5 separate regions of the Homo sapiens genome follow, and regions 2, 3, 4 and 5 are each linked to region 1. Evidence: fine-mapped expression QTL. A gene starts in region 1. Each other region holds a variant in brackets. All regions are shown on one strand. Distances are from middle to middle.

The links.
Region 2: its variant is fine-mapped to the expression of HECW2 in coronary artery (GTEx, PIP 0.99).
Region 3: its variant is fine-mapped to the expression of HECW2 in whole blood (TOPMed, PIP above 0.99).
Region 4: its variant is fine-mapped to the expression of HECW2 in monocytes after LPS (Quach 2016, PIP 0.95). The same link has a PIP of 0.9 or more in monocytes after Pam3CSK4 and monocytes after R848.
Region 5: its variant is fine-mapped to the expression of HECW2 in whole blood (TOPMed, PIP 0.98).

The regions. Positions count from the first base shown.
Region 1 is chr2:196,591,522-196,596,628 of GRCh38, forward strand. It overlaps HECW2 (HECT, C2 and WW domain containing E3 ubiquitin protein ligase 2), which reads right to left and starts at 2,033. Exons shown (of 29, transcript NM_001348768.2): 1 at 1,987-2,033. RefSeq lists silencers at 1,262-1,641, 1,722-1,991.
Region 2 is chr2:196,557,886-196,562,992 of GRCh38, forward strand. All of the region lies in intron 1 of HECW2 (HECT, C2 and WW domain containing E3 ubiquitin protein ligase 2), which reads right to left. Among named protein-coding and RNA genes, the nearest start is that of HECW2, 33 kb to the right of the region's middle. The variant G/A (reference allele first, on the strand shown) is at 2,866.
Region 3 is chr2:196,244,717-196,249,823 of GRCh38, forward strand. The region is part of intron 19 of HECW2 (HECT, C2 and WW domain containing E3 ubiquitin protein ligase 2); the gene reads right to left. Among named protein-coding and RNA genes, the nearest start is that of HECW2-AS1, 13 kb to the right of the region's middle. The variant C/A (reference allele first, on the strand shown) is at 2,376.
Region 4 is chr2:196,276,349-196,281,455 of GRCh38, forward strand. It overlaps HECW2 (HECT, C2 and WW domain containing E3 ubiquitin protein ligase 2), which reads right to left. Exons shown (of 29, transcript NM_001348768.2): 15 at 2,180-2,314. Among named protein-coding and RNA genes, the nearest start is that of HECW2-AS1, 19 kb to the left of the region's middle. The variant C/A (reference allele first, on the strand shown) is at 2,397.
Region 5 is chr2:196,210,205-196,215,311 of GRCh38, forward strand. The region is part of intron 28 of HECW2 (HECT, C2 and WW domain containing E3 ubiquitin protein ligase 2); the gene reads right to left. It overlaps LOC124906154 (small nucleolar RNA U13), which reads right to left; the gene lies at 5,015-5,107. Among named protein-coding and RNA genes, the nearest start is that of STK17B, 41 kb to the left of the region's middle. RefSeq lists an enhancer at 1,522-1,571. The variant A/G (reference allele first, on the strand shown) is at 2,307.

The sequences.
Region 1 (5,107 bases):
TCAATTGGGACTTTTTGAATGTTCAACAAAAAGAAAAATTAAAGCTGGTTAGACTGCTGGATAGTAACGTTACAGTGTCTCCTTTAAGAGATCAAAATGTCTTTGCCACCCTCCACCCCACCCTACCCCACCTCTAATAGTGAAGTGGATAATTTCTGAAGAATACAATGACCCTTTATGCCTGGCTTCTCTAGTCTGCTAGGGATGCCATCTGTCTCCCACGCTATATAAACAATCCCCGCAGGAATCTTCTGATGACCAAACAGATTAGCAAACTCCAGATTTTCACGCCATTAATAATATCCCCATCCAGATTAGGCCTTTTATTTTAATAACTCCAAAGATAAAGTCAATAACTGATCTTTCTTTCTTTGTAGATAATGTGTGTGTCATTTTAAAGATAACCTCTTGGAACATACAGCCATCTGTTGGGAAGAGAAAGAAAAAAAGCTCTCTCAAAGCAACAGAAGAAATGAACCCTCGAGGGAATAGGAGAAATAGTAAAAAGAAAATCATATTTATAAGACAAACACATGGAGAGCTCTACTAATTACACTAAAATATTCTTCTTCTAAATGACAAACTATAGAACACTACTCCAGAAAAGACAAGTTTCACACTTTCACAAAGGTATATATATACGAAAACAGTTTGCGTGAGTCTAGGACAGTGAAAGCAGAAATCATAACCCAAAAGCTAAAGGCCCCCGAAGTTTGCATGCTGTCCACCTCTATCTGTAATGATCACAAATGTTTTCCTTCCTGAAGTTTAATATCGATTGAACCCTTGTAACTCTAATTGTGAGCTCTCTGTACTGACTCCAAAGACTTCTAACTCTAAAAGAAATGTGCCTGTAAAGATGTTCTCTAAATTAATAATAATAAACGACGAAAAGCACCCGAGCGCTGCTAATAGTGAAGACAAGGCATGAGAGAGTCAGACCTCTGCAGTCTCGCGTCCTCGGAAACGTCTACGTCTAAATCTGCAGCCCCAGTTTGCTCCAGGCCCCAAGCTCCAGCAGAGGATGTTCACGGCACATTCCCAACCAAAAAGGAAATGAAGCGTCCTCTCCCTCAACTGATGCTCAAATAGACCCCAAAGTCCCAGTTTCCCTGGAGAACCAAACCATCCAACACATCCTGGGCAGCGGAAACCGAAATGGCAAATGAATGACCGCGCCGGGGCGCAAGGGAGGAAAAACAAAGCCACCTCCCGCCGTCCGCTACCTGCGGCGAGGGCCGCGCGCTCACCTGGGCTTTGCGCCCGTCGCCACAAGCTGCGGGTGGGGACCCGGCCGCGGGGCGGGAGGGCGCCCCCAAAGTCGCCCGGACCCGCGGCCCCGGCGCCCTGCGGCCGGTCCGTGCGCGCCGAGGAGAAAGCAGGCGGCCGGGGGCGCCGCCGCGCGTTGCATGCAGCTCACGGCTGCTGCGGCCGCTGCCACGGAGCCGAGAGTCTCTGCGCTGCAGTCCCCGACCCCGAGACCGCGAGAAGCGCCCGGAGAGACGCGGCGCAGGGGCAGAGCGCGCTCGGCGCGCCCCTCAGCGGCTCTTCCCGCCGCCCTCCGCAGCGGGCTGGGTCTCGGCTCGCCTTTGTGCTGGCATCTTCCTAGCTCCCAGCGACACCCAGAGCTCTCGAGGCGGCTCCGCGCCGCCACCCACCCCCGGGTTACGCCACGGCCCCCGCGCGACCCGCCGATTGTGTCGAGTCAGCAGCGGCAGCGGGGACGCGCGAAGCCATGGCTCCCGCCCGCGCTCGGGAGGGCGCCGGGGGTCCTGCGCCTCCGGGAGGTTTGTGGCCGAGCGCGGCGCGGCCCCGAGCGGCCCCGCAGCGCCCGGCTCCCCGCCGCTCGCTCTCCAGGCGCCGACCCGCCTGCGTCGCCACCCTCTCGCCGCTCCCTGCCGCCACCTTCCTCCCGCCCGGGTGCCGGGCGTCCGCTCCAGCCGCGGTGCCCCGGTCCGCGGAGAGCGAAGAGTCCGGCCTCCTCACCTCCAGCCGCGCCGGCGCCCTTCCCGCTAGACGCTTCGGCGGCATCTGCCCGCACCGCCCTGCGGGACGCTGGGCTGGGAGCTGGCGGCACGTCGGGGACCGGTGGAAGGGAGGCGGGGGCAGAGGACAGGAGGGACAGCCAGACCTTGGCCAGCGGGACCTCCCTGAGGAAGGTGCGGAAGAACGGGGCGGGTGCGGCTGGGCGGAGGACGAGTCCCGAGGCTGCGGCGGAGCCTGAGTTGCTCTCCTTCTGCGAAGTCGAAGGACAGGAGGATTCCTAGAGGTGTCGCGGAGGGTGGAGGAGACCCTCTGAGGTCGTGCAGACAACACTGTTCCTCAACCCCACCAGAAAGCTGAATAGGGGAGTGTCATGCCTCGGTTTCCCCAACTGCAAGGGCAAGACGGTAATACTCATGTCGCACACACAGGGTGTGGTCACGATGAAAAAATGGATTATTGAAAGCGTTCCCAGATACTTTGCCTAAAGAGGGCACTAAAATTTAAAATTACTGTATTAATACTTTCGGCTTTCTGTTTACTTCTATAGCATCTTCATCAACCAGTCCCACGTAGGAGAAAAAGTAAAAATGCTAAAGTGTAAATATATTGTGTCCCTCCCCACCCACCCTTGCATCTGTCCAGATTTAGGGAAGATTTATTCAATTTTACAATTTAACTATATCCATATGGAGTAAGTCCCCAAATAATGGATAGCCATTCCTTTGGGACTTTTGAGTGTGTGCTCAATATTATCCATTTCTCCGCCTTTTCTGGTAACAGCAGTTCATTATTCCTATGGGAACTGCCCTTCCCCCTCACCCACAATGAGTCTTTGTGGCTCCAGGGTACTGACACCTCCCACCCTCAACCCCCAGAACTAGCCAGTCATCTTCCGGACCGCAGTGATCGGTTCTGGGTTGGGCATGTTGATCCAGGAACTCGGCCTAGGGCTTTGGATGTATTACTGCAGAAAAATAAGCTCTTTAAACTAGGATAACTAAATTGGAAGGATATAAGCCTACGGTAACAAGGACCAACAGTGCATGCCAATGAAGCCAACTTTGAGGGAAGAAAAGCTGCTGGTGAGAGGGTGATGTCCCACCCTCTCAGGAACCTCAGGAGGTAGATGTGTCTGCAGTGAACTCTACCCTTGAAGCCAATAAATCCTCTCTCTTTTATTTCAAGTCAGTGTCAGCTGTGTTTTGTCACATGTCTCAGAGGAGCCCTGACTTCTTAGTCCCCTGGATCTATCAGCCCAGGCATCACTGTTAGGATCCTCCACAGAATCAAAGAGCCCCACCCCACAAAAGGCCCAATTCCAGTTCTTGCTGGAAGAACAGGGATCCTAGAGGTTTGTTCCCACATGATGTTCTCCTTCACAACTTACTCAAATCCAGCAACCCCACACCTGCAATCCTTAGCTTCTTTGTGTTGATTAACCACTATGTTACATTCTAGTCAAAATGGGCCAGGTGCAGTGGCTCACACCTGTAATCATGCCTGAGGCAGGAGGATCTCTTGAAGCCAGGAGTTTAAGACCAATCTGGGCAACATAGTGAGACCCCACTAACACAGGAACAGAAAACCAAACACTGCGTTTTCTCACTCATAAGTGGGAGCTGAACAATGAGAACACATGAACACAGGGAGGAGAACATCACATCAGGGAGGAGGGGCCTATCGGGGGTTGTGGGGCTAGGGGAGGGATCTCATTAGGAGAAATACCTAATGTAGATGATGGGTTGATGGGTGCAGCAAACCACCATGGCACGTGTATACCTATGTAACAAACCTCCACGTTCTGCACATATATCCCAGAACTTAAAGTATAATACATTAAATAAAGAAAGAAATAAAAATAAAAATAGCCAGGCATGGTGGCCTGAACCTGTAATCGCAGTTACTCTGGAGGCTGAGGCAGGAAGATCAGTTGAGCCCAGGATTTCAAGACTGCAATGAGCTGTGATTGCACCACTGCACTCCAGCTTGAAGACAGAGCAAGACCCTGTCACCTTGTCAAAAAAGAAGAGGAAGAGGAAGAAGAAGGAGGAGGAGGAGGAAAAAGAAAGAAAGAAAAGAAAAACAGAAAAAGAAAGAAAAGAAAAGAGGAGGAAGGGAGGAAGGGAGGAAAGGAGGGAGAAAGAAGAACCCTAAAAATGAATAGAGGCAAAGTGAATCACTATTGCTGCCCTAGGTCTTAAAAAACATTTTTCTCTCACTTTAAAAGCAGCCCCTACTACCTTTAAAACTTTCTACATATCGACCATTAAAACCGAGACTAAGGCATCAAAGAACATTAATAGCAAAGTCATCCTAAAAATCTCAAACTTGCAAAGGTGTGTAAAGATTAGGTAGGTTCTTTCACACTGCACTCCCCGTTCGTCATCACCACCACTCTCCTTCACAAGATCTCTGACCGGGTCTCACTTATCCTCTCCTGGAGCCATTCCCTTAAAGAGAACTCAGTACTTTACAAGCTGGTCAATTCTGCATTGAAACTGGCCTGACATTAGGAAGTGATCCCTTATATTGAGTTGAAATATTTCTTCCACCTGAGAGTACTCCAAGCACTGAAGACAAACTTGTGAACCACTTGAATTGTCTCTTTTCCAAGATCTTTGCATGACCCATAAGTCATGCAGGACACATGGCAATGTGTCCTGACCCTTCATCATCCTAGGTTACTTCCTTTCTACAGATGTGCCAAGGTTTGTGACTGCTCCTTCTAAAGCATATGGCCAAAGCTAAACCCAAAGGCAGATTCCAAGAAACTTATACTCCAGCCCTCTTCCAACAACACAGAAGGAGCCTGAGAGACATGTTCATGTGGTCTTATATTTTTATAAAAGCTTCCAAAGTAAGATATTTTAATCTCAAGCGATTTGCAGTGGACTGAATGTTTGTGCTCCCCCAAATTCATGTGTTGAAATCCTAACCCCTAATGTGATGGTATTAGGAGGTGGGGCCTTTGGGAGGTGATGGAATAAATGCCCTTATAAAAGAAACCCAAGAGAGCTCTCTCACCCTCTTTCTGCCTCTTGAGGATACAAAGAAAAGATGGCAGTCTGCAACTGGAAGAGGGCCTTCCCACCCACATCACAACCACACTGGCACCCTGATC
Region 2 (5,107 bases), 34 kb before region 1:
AATGAAAATTTCTGTTTTGTAAGCAGAGAGAAACCAATAGCAAAAAATTAATAATACTTAACACGATTATAAAATATGTTTATGGCATGCCAAGCACCATATACTAAACACTTCACATATATTATTAATACTTTATTTATTCTGTAAGGTAGATACTAATCCTATGGAATAGGTACCATTATAATCCCCATTTAAAAGATGAATCAATGTAATTTAGTCAAAACAAAAAATATTCTTCATCCAGTAGTTTTCTTAAATCTGATTAAAGTTATTTTTCTAACATTTTCTAAACAGCAACCACTTAAAAGTTAAAAAATAACCAAGGCACTACTTCAATACCTAAAATCAGAGCTTTCAAACTCAGATGGGCTATGGGTTCAGATTCAGAGATAGAGAGAGAAAAGTAATGGAAGAAGTCTACAGTCAAATATTCACAGGTAGAACACTAATAAGTTAGGATTTTGTGCCACACCTCCTGGTTTCCTGATATAAGCAGAGTTGTGAATTTGGAGAGCTTTACATCAAACTCTACACCCTTTATAATTATAAAGAAAAATGTCCTTTCCAGGATACTATATGAGCATGAGCATACTTTTTGAAACAAAATGTTGCATTTCATAGCCTTCTTCATAGAAAACAACACCAGGTACTGCAACCATTTGAACGTGATTAATTCACCAAAGCTCTTTTTACCACTTGCTATTGTTTTAAGCACGTAGTCCCTTTTCCTTGATTCTAGCTGACATGTTGGCGTATCCCTTGTGTAAAATGGAATATTCTCAGCTTTCTGGACATGTAATCCCTGCTGGCTCTGATCCAGCTGATGAATCTGCCAGGTTGACAGCATTGTGCCTTTGAAGGCCTGTGTCTGCCACAGCAGCAATAACAGAAGATGATGCTTACCTGGCAAAGAATCACTTGAAAATACATTTGATGGGCAAAACTATCAGAAGCTACTTAAATCCTTACTTAGTTTAGCTGGGGCAGGCATTTAAAAAAACCTGTATGGAATTGTTTAATATACCAAATGGATTAGTAATGTGAACTTACCATTCAATGGGCACCTACTCTATGCCAGGCACTATATTAGGCTCTTAATACATCATCTCATTAGAGTCTCACAACAACCCAGGGAGATAGAAATTAACCCTATTTTTACAATTATGGAACTCAAAAATCAGAGACTAAATAACTGCTACTAGGTTGCAGAACTAATAAGCAGGAGAGCTGGGATTCAAACCACATCTACCTAATTAGAAACACAATGTTCTTTTCACTACACCATACTGATGCCCTCTGCCAGCTCACAACACCCACAGTTCCCATTAGACCCTCCCACCTGAGTGAGCCAGTAAGATGCACCTGCAATCTGACATTGGCTTAAAGTATTTTCTTCAACAGCACATACACCAGCCCATCAGAGTCCTACCTGACATGTCCACCCTTCAGAAACACGTGGGGATGTCTCAGCTAAAGGGAGGAGGTTCAATTCCTTCATCACCCCCAATATAAGTAAGACATCTAAGAAAGCTAGGAAACCCTGATATATATCAAGCTGCCATCAACATTATTGAAGCTAACGTTGGGCTAATGTGAGACAGCAACATCTGGAGTCCAGTTGATTACTGCTCATAGGGTTATGCGACAAGCCTGCAGTGTCATGGAACAGACGAGGCTCTACTGTGCTTAAGGAGCTCTAACAAAGTTAGGATGCAAACAACAGAGGCATGGCCCCAGCTAAAGCCTTTTTTCTTGGAGTTTTCTCTTCATGCTGAATTATAACTTCGACAATTTAGCCACCTTTAGAAAGAATACAGAAAGCAGAAAAAGGGGGAAAGGTTTTGAGCACTCTGGCTTATGGCTAGTAAAATGACTACAAAAATCATTTTTTGAAAATAATAGTCATTGTATTTGCATACATCTTAAATCTCACAAGGTACAGTGTGGGAAGGTCAATATTAAACAATTGTATTGAGCCAACAATGTACAATAAATATCTGAATTCCTTTCACTCTAAAAGGATTTTCCTAATTATGCTATTTAGTATCTGCAGGTACTTCACAAGATGAGTCTTTATCTCTCTACCAGTTCACTTGCAGAGAGGGACGGTCCCATGAAAATGATTTCCAGAGCTTCTCAAACCTAATTTGTATATGAATCACCTGGAGATGGTGTCAAAATGCAGATTTTGATTCAACAGGGCTGGATTAGGGCCTGAGAGTCTGTATTTCTATGAAGCACCCTGATGATGTTGCTGCTGCAGGGACCACCCTTTAACAGCAAAGGTCTCACTCTTGTTGCCCAGGTTGGAGTGCAATGGCGCGATCTCGGCTCACTGCAACCTCCACCTCCCAGGTTCAAGTGATTCTCCTGCCTCAGCCTCCCAAGTAGCTGGGATTACAGGTACCCATCACCATGCCCAGCTAATTTTTGTATTTTTAGTAGAGACGGGGTTTCACCATGTTAGCCAGGCTGGTCTCAAACTCCTGACCTCAGGTGATCTGCCCACCTCGGGCCTCCCAAAGTGCTGGGATTACGGGCCTGAGCCACTGTGCCCAGCCTTAACCACTGTTTCTTATCTGAGATCTTCATATGCCCGCACTCCCTGTCCCTGTCCCAGGGAACTGAGCTTTAAAAAAAATCTTAATTGCATGTTCATTTTTTTGGATAATCTAAAAGATATATATTTTACCAGTTCAGTGACTTCTCATTTACAGAAATAATTGATACAATGTGTCCAGAAAATCAGTTTCTCAAGTCAGCTTTTCTCAAAGTGGACTCTGCAGACATTTCCTTGGTAGATCCACACAAATAATTTTCCCACAAAAAAGTCCATACTGTTGCGGGAAGTCAGGGACCGCGAAC[G/A]GAGAGACTTGCTGAAGCCGTGACAGAAGAACATAAATTGTGAAGATTTCATGGACATTTATCACTTCCCCAATCAATACTCTTATAATTTCCTATGCTTGTCTTTACTTTAATCTCTTAATCCTGTCATCTTCGTAAGCTGAGGATGTATGTCGCCTCAGGACCCTGTGATGATTGCATTAACTGCCCAAATTGTTTGTAAAGCATGTGTGTTTGAACAATATGAAACCTGGGCACCTTGAAAAAAGAATAGGATAACAGCGATGTTCAGGGAACAAGGGAGATAACCATTAGGTCTGACTGCCTGGGAGCCAGGCAGGACAGAGCCACATTTCTCTTATTACCAAAAACGGGTAAGAGAAATATCGCTGAATTCTTTCCCCAGTAAGGAATATTAATAATTAACAGCCTTGGGAAAAGAATGCATTCCCAGAGGAGGCCTCTAAAATGGCCACTCTGGGGGTGTCTGCCTTATGCAGCTGCAGATAAGGGATAAAACACGCCCTGGCCTCCTGCAGTGCCGCCAGGCTTGCTAGGATTAGGAAATTCCAGCCTGGCAAATTCTAGTCAGATGTGCTCTCTGCTCTTGAACCCTGTTAAGATGTTTATCAATGACAATGCGTGCACAGTGGGACATGGAACTTCATTAGTAATTCTAGTTTTGCCCTGACCTTGTGATCCCGCCCTGACCTTCTGCCTTGTGATCTTTTGTTGCCCTTGAAGCATGTGATCTTTGTGACCCACACCCTATTCGTACACTCCCTCCTCTTTGAAAATTGCTAATAAAAACTTGCTGTTTTTTACGGCTCAGGAGGCATCATGGAACCTGCTGACATGTGATGTCTCCCCCGGCCACCTAGCTTTAAAATTTTTCTCTTTTGTACTCTTTCCCTTTATTTCTCAGACCGGCCGGCACTTAGGGAAAATAGAAAAGAACCTATGTTGAAATATCAGGGGCTGGTTCCCCTAATACATACAATGACTTCTTAGTTAGAGATTTGCCTTACCCAGCAGCACAGGCAACATCCAGCTACAGGGAAAGAACTGATGTCTTGGGATGGGCAAAGATTAGGAGGAAAGGTAGATTCTGAGACTCACAGAGCCTGATGTCCTACCCTGCACACCTCTAAAATAGTTTACCAAATAAGTGGTCTGTGAGAACTTAGAGGCAATGAAAAGAGGCAATCAGTAGAAAACAGCAGGGTTTCACTAAGAATAAGTTATGCCAAACACGTTATTTCCTTTTGACATGGTTAGGAGAATGGTGGGTATGACAACGCTTTAGACAGCATATTTAGATGTCGGCATGGTATGAAGTCTCTTAAAACACTCTTGTAGCCAAGAATAGAGACATGCAGCCTAAATAATGATACGCTGAATAGATTTGCAGGTGGTTAAGCAGAATATCCAAAGACAATGAATTGGTGGAATAAATGTCAGTCTAGTAAAAGACTCCTTCATAGTTCCTTCCCTTTCCCAGCTTTAAACCCTCCCACCCTCCAACCAAGTTAGAAACAATAGCACAAGTGATACATACTAAATTTCTTACATGTACTTTAAATGTATAAAGAAGTAAAACCACTTATACCAGAATTTTACAAAGGAGGAATTCAGTATACTTTACAGCACATTCTTTTGACAATATTTAAAATTTAATGATATTCTCCCTGTATGAGTTATTTATTTAAACTGTTTTCAATGGCATTTTCAGTAGCTAAAGCTGAAAGAGGGCTTGGAAATATAAAAGACAGGTAAAGTGGATACAGAGAAGCAATTTAGATATTGTCCAATTAAAATGTGGGAAAGATAATGGAAAATGAGCACAAGTAAACCCCAGCCTTATCACTGCATTTCCAAAATATACAAGAAGCAGGAGGGACAGAGCAGAAATACATGTAAGGCGGGCTGTCCCAAAGTATTTCTCCATCTTAGGCATCCATTCACAGAGGTTCCCAGGAGGCAGCACTCAGAATTTTTTATTCGAATCACAAATCAGAAAAGTACCAGCTTTGGCCAGGGTTGGTGGCTCACATCTGTAATCCCAGCACTTTGGTAGGCTGAGGCAGAAGGATCACTTGAGCCCAGGAGTTCAAGACTAGCCTCAGCAATATAGCAAGACCCTGTCTCTACAAAAAATTAAAAAATTAGCCAGGTGTGGTGAGGCACACCTGTAGTCCCAGCTGCTTGGAGGCCAAGGTGGAAGGATAGCTTGAGCCTGGGAGGTTGAGGCTGCAGTGAGCCA
Region 3 (5,107 bases), 350 kb before region 1:
TAAAGTGGAACACAGCAGCAACAGCTGGCATGAGCACTGCATGTGTGTTCAGAAGACACCAAGAGAACCAAGCTAGCCTAGAGTGGAGGAGGAGTGCTGGGAGTAAATGGGAAATGAAATTGATCAGAAGGGTTGGAGCCAAATTATGACAAGAATTTTTAAAACCTAGCAGAGGAGTTTGGGCATGATGCAGTGAACAGTGCCTTTATAGGTTCTTGAGCAGAAGAATAACATACAAATGGTGTTTTATTTAAGAAATTATTTTCAGAGTGTGTTGAGTAAATTAAGGGTGGGCAAGAGGAAAGAGCCCCAGTTAGGAGTTGTTGCAGTAATTGAAGCCTGAGGGGATAAGGACTAGACTGGAGTGAGTGACTCAGAGAAACATCTACAATGTGAAATATGCACTGGGAAAAGAATAGATAAGCAAGAAAGAAGAATGGGAAGCATGATGATAATATAAAGTGTATTTAAACAATAACAACAGGTCTTACTTGTTAAGCGCCTGCTGTACATTACAGATGATGCACGTTACACAGGGGATCTTGAGAAATCCTCACAAGTCTACGAAGCGGGTATTACTAGGACCATCACACACCACTTTGCAACTAAAGAAAATGAAGGTGCAGTTTCCTGTCCAAGTCATATTCCAGTGACAGTAGATTTGGGATTTGAGCCAAGTCTATCTACCTGATGCTATGAAGAGTGTGGGAAGTGATGCAGGTGGACAAGGGCATGTGAAACTTTATACATATTGACTTGGATATGACAGCTAACAAAATGCCCTAGAGACTGAAAAATACAGGGCTGGAATTGGGGTGAGAGCTCAGGGCCACACGTGTGGATGAGCTGAGTTAGTGTGTTTATGGCACTTTATGCAGTGACTGTTGCATAAGAGATCCCACGTAAGTGTTAGCTGTTGTTATCTGCATAGAGGTGAATACTAAAGACAGGGAAATGAATTGAGATTTTACTAATGAATTTGTACAAAACTGGCTATTGACCAATAATCTGTCTGGAGATCTGTTTGTATAGCTGGGCAAAGAGCTGAGTTATGTCATAAAGCAAGTGAATAAACTTGACTTTAAAGATCTGGGAAGCAGAAGAGACTCCTAGGCAGGGGTTCTCAATCTTGACTGCACATTAGAATCACTTAGGAAGCTTTTAAAAATTCCAATGTTCAGGCCACACCCAAGATGCATTACAACAAAATGTGTAAAGACCCAGAATGTGGGGTGGGACCCAGGCATGAGTGTTAAATACAACTGTCCAGATGATTCCAATGTGTAATGTGTAGCTATGGCTGAGAACCACTATTCCCTTATAAGAAGGTCAAACATCACCAGTGAAACACATGGGCAGCATCCAGGGACTAACACAGGGCAAATGTTTCCTGTGTACCGAAAGGCATAATTTGCAACACGAAGGAACATTATCTCCATGAACACAAGGCTGCTCTCCTAGATGAATGAGGGATAGGACCGTGCAGTTCAAGTCCACTCAAGGGTGGCACAATCAGTGTCAGTGCTCCAGTCTGAGAAACTGCAGACTAGAAAACCCAGACAGGGCAGAACGCAGCTGTAATGAATCAACTTTCAAGAGCAAAATCATTGATAAGAGAGAGAAAAATGAAGAACAAGGAACTGAACGAAAATCTTTTAAGACACAAAAGAAACTTTTTTTTTTTCTTTAGACGGAGTCTCACTCTGTCGCCCAGGCTGGAGTGCAGTGGCACGATCTCGGGCACTGCAAGCTCCACCTCCCGGGTTCATGCCATTCTCCTGCCTCAGCCTCCTGAGTAGCTTGGACTACAGGCGTCTGCCACCACGCCCGGCTAATTATTTTTTTGTATTTTTTTAGTAGAGACGGGGTTTCACCATGTTAGCCAGGATGATCTCGATCTCCTGACCTTGTGATCCACCCCCCTCAGCCTCCCAAAGTGGTGGGATTACAGGCATGAGCCACTGTGCCCTGCCAAGAAACATGTTTTTTTAAGAGCTGATTACTTTAAAAAACAGCACAGACACTAACTACTCCTATATAATTTGAGATGCTTAAAAGGACGTGGGAAATGCCATAATGCATTCCATCAATATCAATACAGACACAATAAAAATTAGCTCTGATTCTGTTTATACTCTAGGTAAAGGGATTTAATTATAAAAACTCTGAGACAGCAATTGTTAAATGCAAAAATTCTTTTGCTCATAGTTCCATCATGAAAGAAGTCATTTACACATTATTTCATTTTAAAATTATAGTAAATTGGCTGGGTACGGTGGCTCACGCCTGTAATCCCATCACTTTGGGAGGCTGAGGTCGGTGGATCATGAGGTCAGGAGATCGAGACCATCCTGGCCAACATGGTGAAACCCCGT[C/A]TCTACTAAAAACACAAAAATTAGCTGGGTGTGCTTGTAGTCCCAGCTACTTGGGGGGCTGAGGCAGGAGAATCACTTGAACCCAGGAGGCGGAGGTTGCAGCGAGCCGACATCGCACCACTGCACTCCAGCCTGGCAACAGAGTGAGGCTCTGTCTCAAAATAAATAAATAAATAAATAAAATTACAGTAAATTATGCTGTTGGCCTTTGTCAAATTCTTAATACAAGTGAGGTATAATTGCCAAGAAATTCCAGAGCAGGAATGATGTTACTTCCACTTTGGAAATACAAAATGTTCTTGGAAGATTGCGCTAATAAAATTGTGTGAGAACTACAAGTGAAGTTCTAGGTCATAATACTTTGTAGACAGAGGAATTTTATGGTCTTTACAGTCTTAAAGAAAATCAGGTACAAAAGATCAATGTTACATCAAATGAAGGGCTGACTTCATGGATAGTCAGCATTTTGCTAATACTGTGCAGGAAAAAATTTCAGTAACAGACACTAGGGAGTTTTTGCTTTGTCATTGCTAGGCAGGTCTAAAGAACTTCTATATTGTGTTACCCTATTTTCATATACTGTTACAAAATTGCATAATCATATACAAACTAAAGAATTCTATCTGACAAAATATTTCAGAAGACACTAGAAATAGCTTGGCATCCAACTCCCGGGCAGTCTCAGTCTTTTTTGATTCTGGGTGTGTGACCCAGAACCTGGACTGTTCTGATGACTAGCACTGGTTCTCCGTATTGGACAGGGGCTGGATCTTAGCCTGATCCAGCATGGCTCCATGCCTCTGTCCTGGGACAGCTCAGACGCTCATCTCTTTCCTGGTTCACTTTCAAAAAATCCCTATGACATTTAAAACAAATGCCCTGTGAGTGAATGAAAACAAAACATCAAGCACTACAATAATTTCTGGAAGGCTCCATCTTCTGGAACATAGCTCAACGCTGGAACTTAACAAAAAACACGTCCAAATCCCTGGCACAAAGCACAAGCACTGAAAACCTGGCATTTTTGCTTTATTCTCTGAGTAGTAAAAGGCCCTCGAGTCATTTCTTGGAGCTTGCTGATGTTCATGTACATACCATTTATTGAAAATAACTTAATGCTCTGACTTCTCAAACCTTGACAGAGATCTTGGCAGGGAAGTGATTTATTAAAGGGAAATGTAAAGGGTCTGCCAATAGCAGGCACCCTCTGATAGCTCTATGGGTGAGGACAAGGGAGACTAACAACACAAAAAGTTAAGTCTCTATACTATGAGAGAGACAGTGTCTGTGGCTTTCTTTTGGTCTCTGGGATCACAACTTCCCCATCCCTACCCACCCAGGGAGCATCCTTCATTTGTGCAATTTGGTTCCTAGATCATCTTTGTAGGGCTGAGTCAAGGGAAGGGATCAAACACCTTTTCTAAAAACAACTCTAAAGCTACTTCAGGGACTGTAGGAAAGGTGGGGAAAGGGAGAGGGACAGATGAGAGAGAGAGAGACAGACAGACACACACACACACACACACACACACACACACACAGAGAGAGACAGAGAGGAATAGAGAGGGAGGAAGGAAGAAAAGGAGAGAGAGAATGAGCAGAGAAGAGGAACTGTTTGTGAAAAGAGAAGATGACATAAACAGCTGGTAAAATGCTAAGACTTTGTGGTGGGAGAAAGAAAACGAAGATCATTAAGGGCACACAATGTGGTGGGAGAAATAATTCCCTCTCACAACCCATCCCCTCAAGACAATCTTTAGTAAAGACCCACAGGGCTCTTCTGTGCTCTCTGAGTGTTTTACTTCTGTTGAAGGTGACTTTCTGCTGGTGCTAGTTTCCAGGGAGTCCAGCTCTAGTCAAGTAACAAGAGCTCTGCATCATGATTCATAGGCACAATGATCCCCCCAAACCATGAAATATCCTCAATGTGCAGTGTATAGGAAAGTAAAGAGAAATATAATATATTTATGAAAGAGTTTCAGCAAATAGGGGGTCAAACAAATTCTCATACAGTTAAAATCATAGCTTTGGTTACCTGGAAAATCCACATAAGAGAGCACATCTCCAATAATATCAGATAAATTAGGTGTTATTGCATTTAATTTCCTAGAAATGTGCAGCTTAAATAAACTTCTGGGTCCCATATTTGGCATAATAAGCCACATGGTGTTTGGAAAGATCTTTTCCTTCTGGCATCACTGAGGTTGGGATTGGCATTATAATGGTCCTAGAAAAACAAACCTTCACATTCCAAAATTTTGACAAATTTTGGTGAGCACTCTAACAGCTGCAAAAAGCAGTGAGTCAAAGTTTCCAAAGCCCCTCTCTCTTCTGCACTTGAAAATACATGTCAACGTGCTTGGAATGAGGAAAAGGGGGAAAGTTTACCAGGTTCCTAGGAATTCTCAATGAAGATCATTAAAATTTATTACTGTCATAATTTTCAAGATATTATTCTCACACCACTAAAAGGGGTGAAATTATAGTCACAAGGAGGATCAGACCACTTAAAAAAATCTGTTTGAAATGTTGCTTTCACAAAACCTTCAGGAATCCTGGTAGAAGGAGAAGCTATTTTATTCAAAGGAACAGAAGATTCCTCCAGAGGGGAAATGAGGTTAGGTAGTCCTGCCCTGGTATCATGTGGAATTTGTTATAGTGACTTCCATTGATATCAGGCTGTACAACCCAGTTTCAAGATCAAACAAAGCCCACTGAAACAGAGTAGGCCA
Region 4 (5,107 bases), 320 kb before region 1:
ATCCCTTAGGGTCCCTCTCTCATAAAGGCTACTACTACTAGACCATGAAAATATTCATGTTTTAAGGTAGAGGGGTTGAAAGAAAATGAAAGTATAGCTATTAATCTCATGCATGTTTTCCCAGAAAAATAGTCCTAACTAGACCAAACAGCCAGCTTCATACTGTGAAGTCATGATAAGGTGAGTGGTTAAAGGGCACGGGCTATGCAATAAAATATCAGACAGAGCCCTAATTGTGCTACACATCGCACACAAGGTCCAAAGGTGAGAGGTCTGTTCTGCTTTTAAGATGAATGTTGTTAGTGCCATTCAGTTCACCACTAATGGGTTACATGACAGCAAGGTAAAGATTTATTAGCTACTCATAAAACAGAAAAATTTTTGCACATACCTCATCCTGTAATATATTTGTATATCATTTTTATATGAGCTTCTCATGTGCACCCTTCTATATCTGCACTTACAACCAGCAAACACATGATGCATTGGAGCAAGTATATAAATCACGAGGGGAAATTCCAAGAGTAGAATTTTGATGAATCAGATCCAGTTATTTATTGTATTCATATTTTTTCTTATACAAAATATATGGCTACAAAGATATTTGATGTACAATATAATACTGAAAATATGACATGCACATAGACACAGAAAAGGCATGTAAAGGTGGGTAAAGGATCCAAATTCTATTGTCTAAGGGAATTTTCAGAAACAATGTAAATCAAGTGATGGTATATAATCAAATCATAAGCCCATATGAAGGAGAAGAAAACTTGACTTAAGACATTTCTTTTATATATTGAAGCTGCAAAAGGAAGAACTGAAACAAGGTTTGTTCTTTTTTTTGGTTAGGATATTAGAGGGCCCTCGTGTGGTTACCATTGGTCCCTGCAAATCGGTAAAGTAGAGCAGTTTTTAGTAATTCTTAGTTCAGCCCTTTTTCTCCAGGCACATAAAGTATATAAATCAACTCTCTCAAAAATATCCTAATTTTAAAGAATACTAGTGAGGATTCCATAATCCCATATCCCTGGATGGATATTTTAATGTAATATAGAAAACTTCACTTAAGAAATTCTATCATCTCATACCAGTTAGAATGGCAATCATTAAAAAGTCAGGAGACAATAGGTGCTGGAGAGGATGTGGAGAAATAGGAACACTTTTACACTGTTGGTGGGACTGTAAATTAGCTCAACTATTGTGGAAGACAGTGTGGCGATTCCTCAGGGATCTAGAACTAGAAATACCATTTGACCCAGCCATCCCATTACTGGGTATATACCCAAAGGACTATAAATCATGCTGCTATAAAGACACATGCACACGTATGTTTACTGTGGCACTACTCACAATAGCAAAGACTTGGAACCAATCCAAATGTCCAACAATGATAGACTGGATTAAGAAAACGTGGCACATATATACACCATGGAATACTACGCAGCCATAAAAAATGATGAGTTCATGTCCTTTGTAGGGACATGGGTGAAGCTGGAAACCATCATTCTCAGCAAACTATCACAAGAACAAAAAACCAAACACCGCATATTCTCACTCATAGGTGGGAATTGAACAGTGAGAACACTTGGACACAGGAAGGGGAACATCACACACCGGGGCCTGTTATGGGGTGGGGGGAGGGGGGAGGGATAGCATTAGGAGATATACCTAATGTAAATGATGAGTTAATGGGTGCAGCACACCAACATGGCACATGTATACAAATGTAACAAACCTGCACATTGTGCACGTGTACCCTAGAACTTAAAGTATAATTAAAAAATATATATATATATATATAAAGAAATTCCACATTTAACCAAGTTATATTCATTTCTTCCTGTGAGGCTGAAAATGGGTGTGCAAATGGGCTTATCATCTTCCTGTCTCGAACATTTTAGTACATTATCAACACCCTCTCACCTTCCTCTGAGTCAAAAAATCTTAAATTTCGTCAGTTTTGCCTCATATATCCTACCTTTTTAAATTTGTGATTTAGGCTGTATGTATTTCCAGAGAAGCCCTGTCAACATTCGAAAGCTTTTCAGCCTCTAAATCAAACTCAAAAAAAAAAAAAAGAAAAAATGCTTTAAAAAAATCAGTCAAATTCCTCAAACCATCACATACTAGAAGCTTCTATCAACCAACAGGTCAGTCCCCAAAACGCATGACTCACCTCACCCGCACTGTGGCTGCGTTGCCTTGTCAGGTGTTGCCGATGAACCAGCGCACTTGTGGGTCTACTGCTCTGAAGTGGGAGCCGGGGATCAATGAAAGTGGTGGTGCGGGAGTTGTGGTCCACAAAGAATGCCTAGGATACAATACACTGAGTCAAATACATGCCGCTCACATGTCTTAGCTGACTTATAACATCAGACGGTCAGGAAAAGACT[C/A]ACTTCTGAGTCACAATCTTAGCTCTATTTTCTCATAATTTTCAATCTTTGGGGAAATTTCTCCTTACCCACACAGGACAGATCAGATTAGAGAAAGCCAAGCTTAGATGAGATCCAGAACGAAGAGAGCAGGAAGGAACATTATGCCTGGTTTTAGGAAATGCTCCACGAGATAGTCACCAAAGACATGATCCAAGAAGGAAGCCAGAAGAATGGACATTTAGGCTTCTCTTAACTGATGGTCTTTGAGCTCTTACTGTCATATGTGGTTATTATAAAGTTCTTACCACCTTGAAACTTAAAAAAAAAAATTTTTTTTTTTGAGACGGAGTCTCGCTCTGTCACCCAGGCTGGAGTGCAGTGGCGCGATCTCAGCTCACTGCAAGCTCCACCTCCCAGGTTCATGCCATTCTCCTGCCTCAGCCTCCCGAGTAGCTGGGACTACAGGCGCCCACCACCACGCCCGGCTAATTTTTTGTGTATTTAGTAGAGACGGGGTTTCACTGTGTTAGCCAGGATAGTCTCAATCTCCTGACCTCGTGATCTGCCTGCCTTGGCCTCCCAAAGTGCTGGGATTACAGGCGTGAGCCACCGCGCCTGGCCGAAACTTTTAAACATCATTGACTTCTCTTCTTTCTTCCTTCTCCTATACAGTAAGCCACAAAATCCTTCTCATTTTCTCACTGTAGTGTCCTCTATTTGTCCCCTCCCAGCCTGAACACCACCCCATTATTTTGGGACTTTATTTTATGTGTGTAAGTGCTGGTGGCTTCTCAGCTGCTCCACATCTCTATCACCATAGTCATTTAACTGGCCCGTTACTATAAGAATATTCTTTCTAAACACTTCAATTACATCACCACCCCAATACAAAGCTTCTCATGGCTATCCATTGTCCACAGAAAAGACATTCCCACTCTTTGGTCAGTTTTTCATTACTCTTTAACAGTCTGCCTACATGCCTTTCCAGTTTAGTCGCCCATTACACACCCATACAAACTCATCACATACCGTCTAGAACTTTGGGTAAGTCACTTAAGTTCTCTGAGCTATATGTTTCTTACAAAAACATGTCTCCTTCATTCCTGACATTTCTCCCCCATAATGTGTTAGAAGAATGGAAGCCATGTCTGTCATGATCACTGCAGAATCTCTGATAACATGAAATCATGAATGAGCATAAACCATTTACCTCAGCATTGCAGTAAGATGGACTACAATGTAGCAAAGCATTTTTTGGTCTGTTTGTTTAATTCTAAAACTATACAAGTGCTATCTATCATTATCCTTAGGGGCCCAATGTTGTAAGTTTTCAAAGTAAAATTGACTCAAGGTAATAATGAAACCCATTATCTTAAGTACAATTAGAAATTGTAAGTTTTCCATGATCAGATAGTTAATTAGGTCATCAAAGATGAAAGAGGCTATTAGGAGAGCCAGGAGACTCAGTACCTATAAACCAAGTATCAAGGCACATGATGTATGCCAAATAACAGGCAAAAAAGAACTGACCTTTCAAACCAATGGAGCTCAGTTAACAAAGTACCTTAACACCTAGAGATGAAGGTATCTAGGCAAATGCCAGAGGCAGATAGTATATTTATGCCTATTTAGAAACCTATTTTCCCATTATGGAACAGAATGTTTCATATGGAACTCTATGTACATCATCAAGAAATGGGGCAGGTCCCATATAGAAAACATTTTTACATCTTTATAAAGAAATAACTTTAAGCAATGGATGTACCAGAAAACAAAGCAGAAAAATGGACAGAACAGGAATCTTTCCCAGTCCTTTCTCTTACTATCCAATTCTGGGTACAAAAAAATAAAGGTTTTGTGTGAGATTTTGTCATCAGCCTCACATCCTGGGTAATGTTTCCTCTTCACTAACCTTGAGTGAAACATCCTTCTTCTCAGGTCTTGTAAAAAGTACTCCAGTGATAAAACCTGTGTGGACTTGCATTGACAGGTTCTGACCCCAAATGTCACATTGGTCCCATTTGGTTTGTGCTTCTAATACAATTGTCCACTATTTCTGCCACTACTCAAAATGTCATAAAATAGCAATTAAACTATTTTGCACCAATGGATGTGGCTAATACCTATTTTTAAATAATACATATTAGAACCAAACCCATATCCTCTGTATGTAAATGGAGAGTAACAAGCTTTTATTACTAACACAATCCTATTAACCATCTTGTTTAAGGGAAAAATACAAAGAGCATAAATTAGAATGGCCTATTTACCTAATTTCTTAGGAATGTTTTGAAGGGATGGGTGGTCATTAACGGTACAATGATGCACTTGTAATTATAAAGACAAATGGGTGTCTACATGTAGGTCAACTATGATTTGTATGTAGTGTCATAGCCTAATGTGATGTTAAGAGGCTTGTCTAAAATCCATTCTCAAAAGAACTATACTGCAAAAGCCTTGCAGTAGTGACTGTATCTTAGTCACTCTGTTATCCCCAATAGCTTTTAGGGCTGTGCCTGGGAGAAAGGGTGCTCAGATAAAAACAAATTGGCAAAAACTTGAATTTCCAACCAAAATACAAGGAGACAACTAACAATTAACTAACCAAGTGCTAAAAAGCATGTTCTTGGGCCAGGCGCGATGGCTCACACCTGTAATCCCAGCACTTTGGAAGGCTGAGGTAGGTGGATCGCTTGAGCTCAGAAGTTCAAGGCCAGCCTGGGCAACAT
Region 5 (5,107 bases), 380 kb before region 1:
GAGCAATATTTAATGACATGGAAAGATGTTCCATGTGATAAACGGAATGTTGTTTTAAAATGTGTGTGTGTGTGTATGTGTGTGTCTGTGTGCCTGTGTGTACCTGAAGAAATGAGTGAAATCACATACTCTAACATGTTAACAGAGCTTATCTTAGTAATTGACTTTTTTTTCCTTCAGAAATGGTATCTCTCTATGTTGCTCAGGTTTGACTCAAACTCCCATGCTCAAGCCTTAGCCTCCCAAGTACCTGGGACTCCAAGCATGCACCACCATGACCAGCTAGTAGTGGACATTGGGTGGACATTGGATTGATACATATGTAGGTATTTTAATATATATTTAATATATACATATATTTCTTAGCAATTTTTTGTAAAATTTTCTTTTTATAAATTAGAATAAAAAGCAGATTTTTTTTTCTTTTGAGATGGAGTCTCACTCTGTCACCCAGGCTGGAGTGCAGTGGCATGATCTTGGCTCACTGCAACCTCCACCTCCTGGGTTCAAGTGATTCTTCTGCCTCAGCCTCCCGAGTAGCTGGGATTACAGGTGCACACCACCATGCCTGGCTAATTTTTGTATTTTTTTTTTTTTAAGTAGAGATGGGGGTTTCACCATATTGGCCAGGGTGGTCTCAAACTCCTGACCTCAAGTGATCTGCCTGCCTTGGACTCCCAAAGTGCTGGGATTTCAGGTGTGAGCCACTGCACTCTGCCAAAAAGCAGAATTTTAAAAACAAAAAGTTGTTATGTTTTTAAAAAATAATTTTATCTTTTAAAGTTCTATTCCATTAGATTAACTGTCTCCATAAGACATCTATTTCATAATTAACTCTTACAATTTATTTCTTAATTTCAGTTAGCATTTCATTCATAATAATCTCCAGACACAGCCATTTTCAAAAATTAACGCTTTTCCCTTTGGCAATAACCAACACACCCCCATGACGATTGCAGCTCTCAGGTCCTCCGTCCCATCACCCAACTTGGCAAGAACCTGGGGGATGAACACAGAAACTCACACCATGGTGGGAGACAGGACTGCTCTGCAGTTTTCAGGCTGGCATCTTAGCAGCGCATTTTTTGGACTGTTTGAGAGCAATTGCCACAAAGTGAATGTACTCTCTTTTCATAAAGTCCATCAGAGCACCAGGGGTATGAAGTCTTCCACAGAAATGCAAAATACAGAGCTAACCACCGACCGCGAAGCAGAGGAAGTGCAGTCATGTGCTCAGGCTGTAGGTCTCCATGGAGACACCCTTCTGTCTACATCCTTATTTATCATCTGGGTCTCTAGTCACTTCATAACCACAAGAGGAAAAAAGAGCCATGGATTCAACTTGCACTGGCTGCAGAGACAACCATATATACTTTTATATACTCCTTGACTCATACTGTGAGCAGCGCTATCCACTGCTACCGCAAAGTGAGACTAGGAAATCTGAGAAAAGAATGAGACTCACATTTGCCTGCTTGAAAATTGAAAGGCCCTCCATCATCCTTGTCTAGAAAGACTAAGATTCTCTCCCTCATTGCTCCGGTTGCCAGGACTGCCCTCATCCTTTACAGCCCCTCCAACCCTCCAGGGCAGAAACTCCCATGCCCGACACAAGACCATGCCAGACTTCTTAGAGGATTCTTTTTTTTTCTTTTTGAGACAGAGTCTTGCTCTGTCGCCCAGGCTGGAGTGCAGCATTGCCATCTCGGCTCACTGCAACCTCTGCCTCCTGGGTTCAAGCGATTCTCCTGCCTCCCGAGTAGCTGGGACTATAGGCGTATGCCACCACGCCCAGGTAATTTTTGTATTTTTAGTAGAGACAGGGTTTCACCATGTTAGCCAGGCTGGTCTCAAACTCCTGACCTCAGGCAATCCGTCCGCCTTGGCCTCCCAAAGTGCTGGGATTACAGGTGTGAGCCACCATGCCCAGCCAGGATTCATTTTTTAAGTAAGAAGGACATCTATCCATTTTTCTCCCATGTGTGCAATGTAATTTTTTTTTTAATTTTAAGTTCAGGGGTACTTGTGCAAGTTTGTTATAGAGGTAAACCTGTGTCACTGGGGGTTTGTTTTACAGATTATTTTGTCACTCAGGTATTAAGCCTAGTACCCATTAGTTATTTTTCCTGATCCTTTCCCTCCTCTGACCCTCCACCCTCCATTAGGCCCCAGTGAGTGTTATTCCCCTCTATGTGTCCTTGTGTTCTCATCATTTAGCTCCCGCTTGTGAGAAGATGTAGTATTTGGTTTTCTGTTCCTGTGTTAGTTTGCTAAGGATAATGGCCTCCAGCTCCATCCAGGTTCCT[A/G]CAAAGAACATGATCTCATTCTTTTTTATGGCTGCATAGTATTCCATGGTATATATGTACCATATTTTCTTTATCCAGTCTACCATTGATGGGCATTTAGGTTGATTCTGTGTCTTTGCTATTGTGAACAGAGCTGCAATGAAGATACACATGCATGTGTCTTATAACTGAATGATTTATATTCTCTTGGGTATATACCCAGTAGTGAGATTGCTGGGTTGAATGGTATTTCTGTTTTTAGATCTTTGAGGAGTTGCCACACTGTCTTCCACAATGGTTGAACTAATTTATACTCCCACCAATAGTGTATAAGCATTCCCTTTTCTCTGCAACCTTACCAGCATCTGTTATTTTTTTGTACCATGTCACATTTTAAATGTTAAACATCATTTCACTCATAGGAAAAAGAAATACACTGGGGCCAACTAGCTTGAGACAGACCAGCTCTTCCATTGTGCAACTTAACGCCTATCAAAAAATAGCAGAAAAATGGCTTCAGTGTATCTGTTCTGATGGTAGGAGAAATGGACTTGATAATATAAAAGAATCTCTTTAGGCCAGAACCAATTTTACAGATCTTTTTTTACACCTAAGTAATGCCCCACATTTCATTAAGGGTGATGACAATGTTGTCAATGAAGAAGTTGCTTCTCATATAACTATACTGTCATGCAATTAAGTTCTTTTAATTTTTTCCCTCCGAATGTACTTTTATTCTTTGTGGAGCCAATGTTAATAGTTAAAGTAGTACAGTGGCTTACAAAAGTCAGGATAAAAAGTTAAAAAAGAACAAAGTAAACACAGTGTTCCTAAGCCTTTCATATACATTATCTTACAATTGTCAAAAATACTCTGAACATTGTTACTCCTACCTTAGAGGGATGGATCTAGGGTTTTGCTTAGGATGATGTAACTAGTGTGTCATAGGGCTTAGATCTGTGCTCCTGCGTGTTACCTGGGTTACATAAGGTGACTGCAACTCTGAAGCAGAAAAGCCAAGTAACTCTTTCTTCTCATCAGACCCCAAAAGATGGGGCTTGTTACGGAGAGGGTATGAAAAGAGGCTGCTTGCTCAATGTGCCTAAGACCATCTTTATTTGTGCTGTTTTATAATCTGGGTAAAACTAGGAATGTAGAAGCAAACTTAGGTCATAGTGAAGACAGGGAGAAAGGACAGTGCCTGTTACCCAACTGTGTGTATGCTACAATAATGAAGAATACCACCATTTACAATGAGTTAGCACATGAACTTCCTGGAGCTCCAGGGGGAAGCAGAAATGCAAATCCAGCCTGACCCTCAAGATTCTTCAGCAACCCTTCGGTGTTACTTCTTGCTCAACCCAACCTAATATACCACCTCCTCCAGGCCTGTTACAAATGAGAAAATCAAGGCTCAAAGATGAAGTGTTCTCTAAGGTCCCAGAGTTAGCTGGTGGCAGAGGTGGGACTAGAAGCTAGGTCTTTTAACTCCTACCCCTGCCCTCTTTCCAATATGCAAATATCCTGCCTGATATGTATTACAGATGATGGTGACAGAAATCACAATGGCAGCGATCACTGACTGGATGCTTACTCATGGCCAGAGACAGTATTAAGTATTTTTCATGAATGATTTCACATCATCCTCAGAATTTCAAATCCACCAGATAGATGAGGAAACAGAGGCTCAGAAGGATCATGCAACTTCACCAAGACCCTGCTGCAGGTAAGTAACAGAGGTGGGACTCAGCCTAGGTCTCTCTGAAGCTAAAGCTCCAGGTCTATATCAAATTACTTGTCTCTACCCATCAGGTTTGGTGAAAATTACAGTGATTAAATATGAACAGTGGACATATCTGCTTACTGTTGCACTTTATTCCATATACTTTAGTGGCTTTACAGAAATAGATTTCAACAAAAAGCTGACCATTAATCTACCCTTTCCTTCTTCAATGCAAATTCTTAAAGAGTTTCTCAGAAGAGTAAAAAGCCTTATTCAGATAGGCTAAATCTGTTGATTTATGTGTTGAAGGGGAGAAAACTCATTATCCAAGCATAAATAAAATGAGCTAGTTCTTTAAATAATGAAATCAAATAATGAATTCCCAGATTTGGAAATCAAATATGCCAGGTAATACTTAGGTGTCTGGATGCACAGCCTGTTCAGACTGTGATGCGTGTGGGGTGGCCAAGGAGGCTCAGGCAAACCCTTGAGCAGTCATTCTTTATCGCTCTCTCCATTTGTATTTTCAGCACCCTTTTTCTCATCTGTTGATGCTGACAATACAGTTCTTAAGAACTGGCATCTTTCAATTGCTAAGAAGAAAGCTTTGATAACAGATTGCTCAGTTGCTTGTACTTAAAGAAACAGATGACATCTTGGGGTACCTAATGTCACCTTATATAGTAACAATAATATCACCTAATATCACTAATAAAATAGGTTTCTCAAAGTCATCTATACTTCAATTTAGGATAACATCTTGGGGTACCTAATATCATTTAATCTCTCTAGAGTATAGTTGTATTATTAGTAAAGTTAGAGGCAATTTCAGCTCCTTTTTACCTCAAAAATGCTACAGTATTACTACTAATTGGATAAAGGAATTCTAAAACAAATTTTCTTCCATTCCTCTTTTGTTCATATGCTCCTTTTCTGTTGCTCCAGCTCCAGTTATCTCCACTCAATCTCAAACACTTTTTGTACTAGTCCTTGCTTCTATTTTCCATATCAGATGGGTAATGTGTGGACGTTGTAATAAGGCTTGAGGGTGGCACATCTCACATATGTGCATGAACACCCAATTATCACACTGACAAAT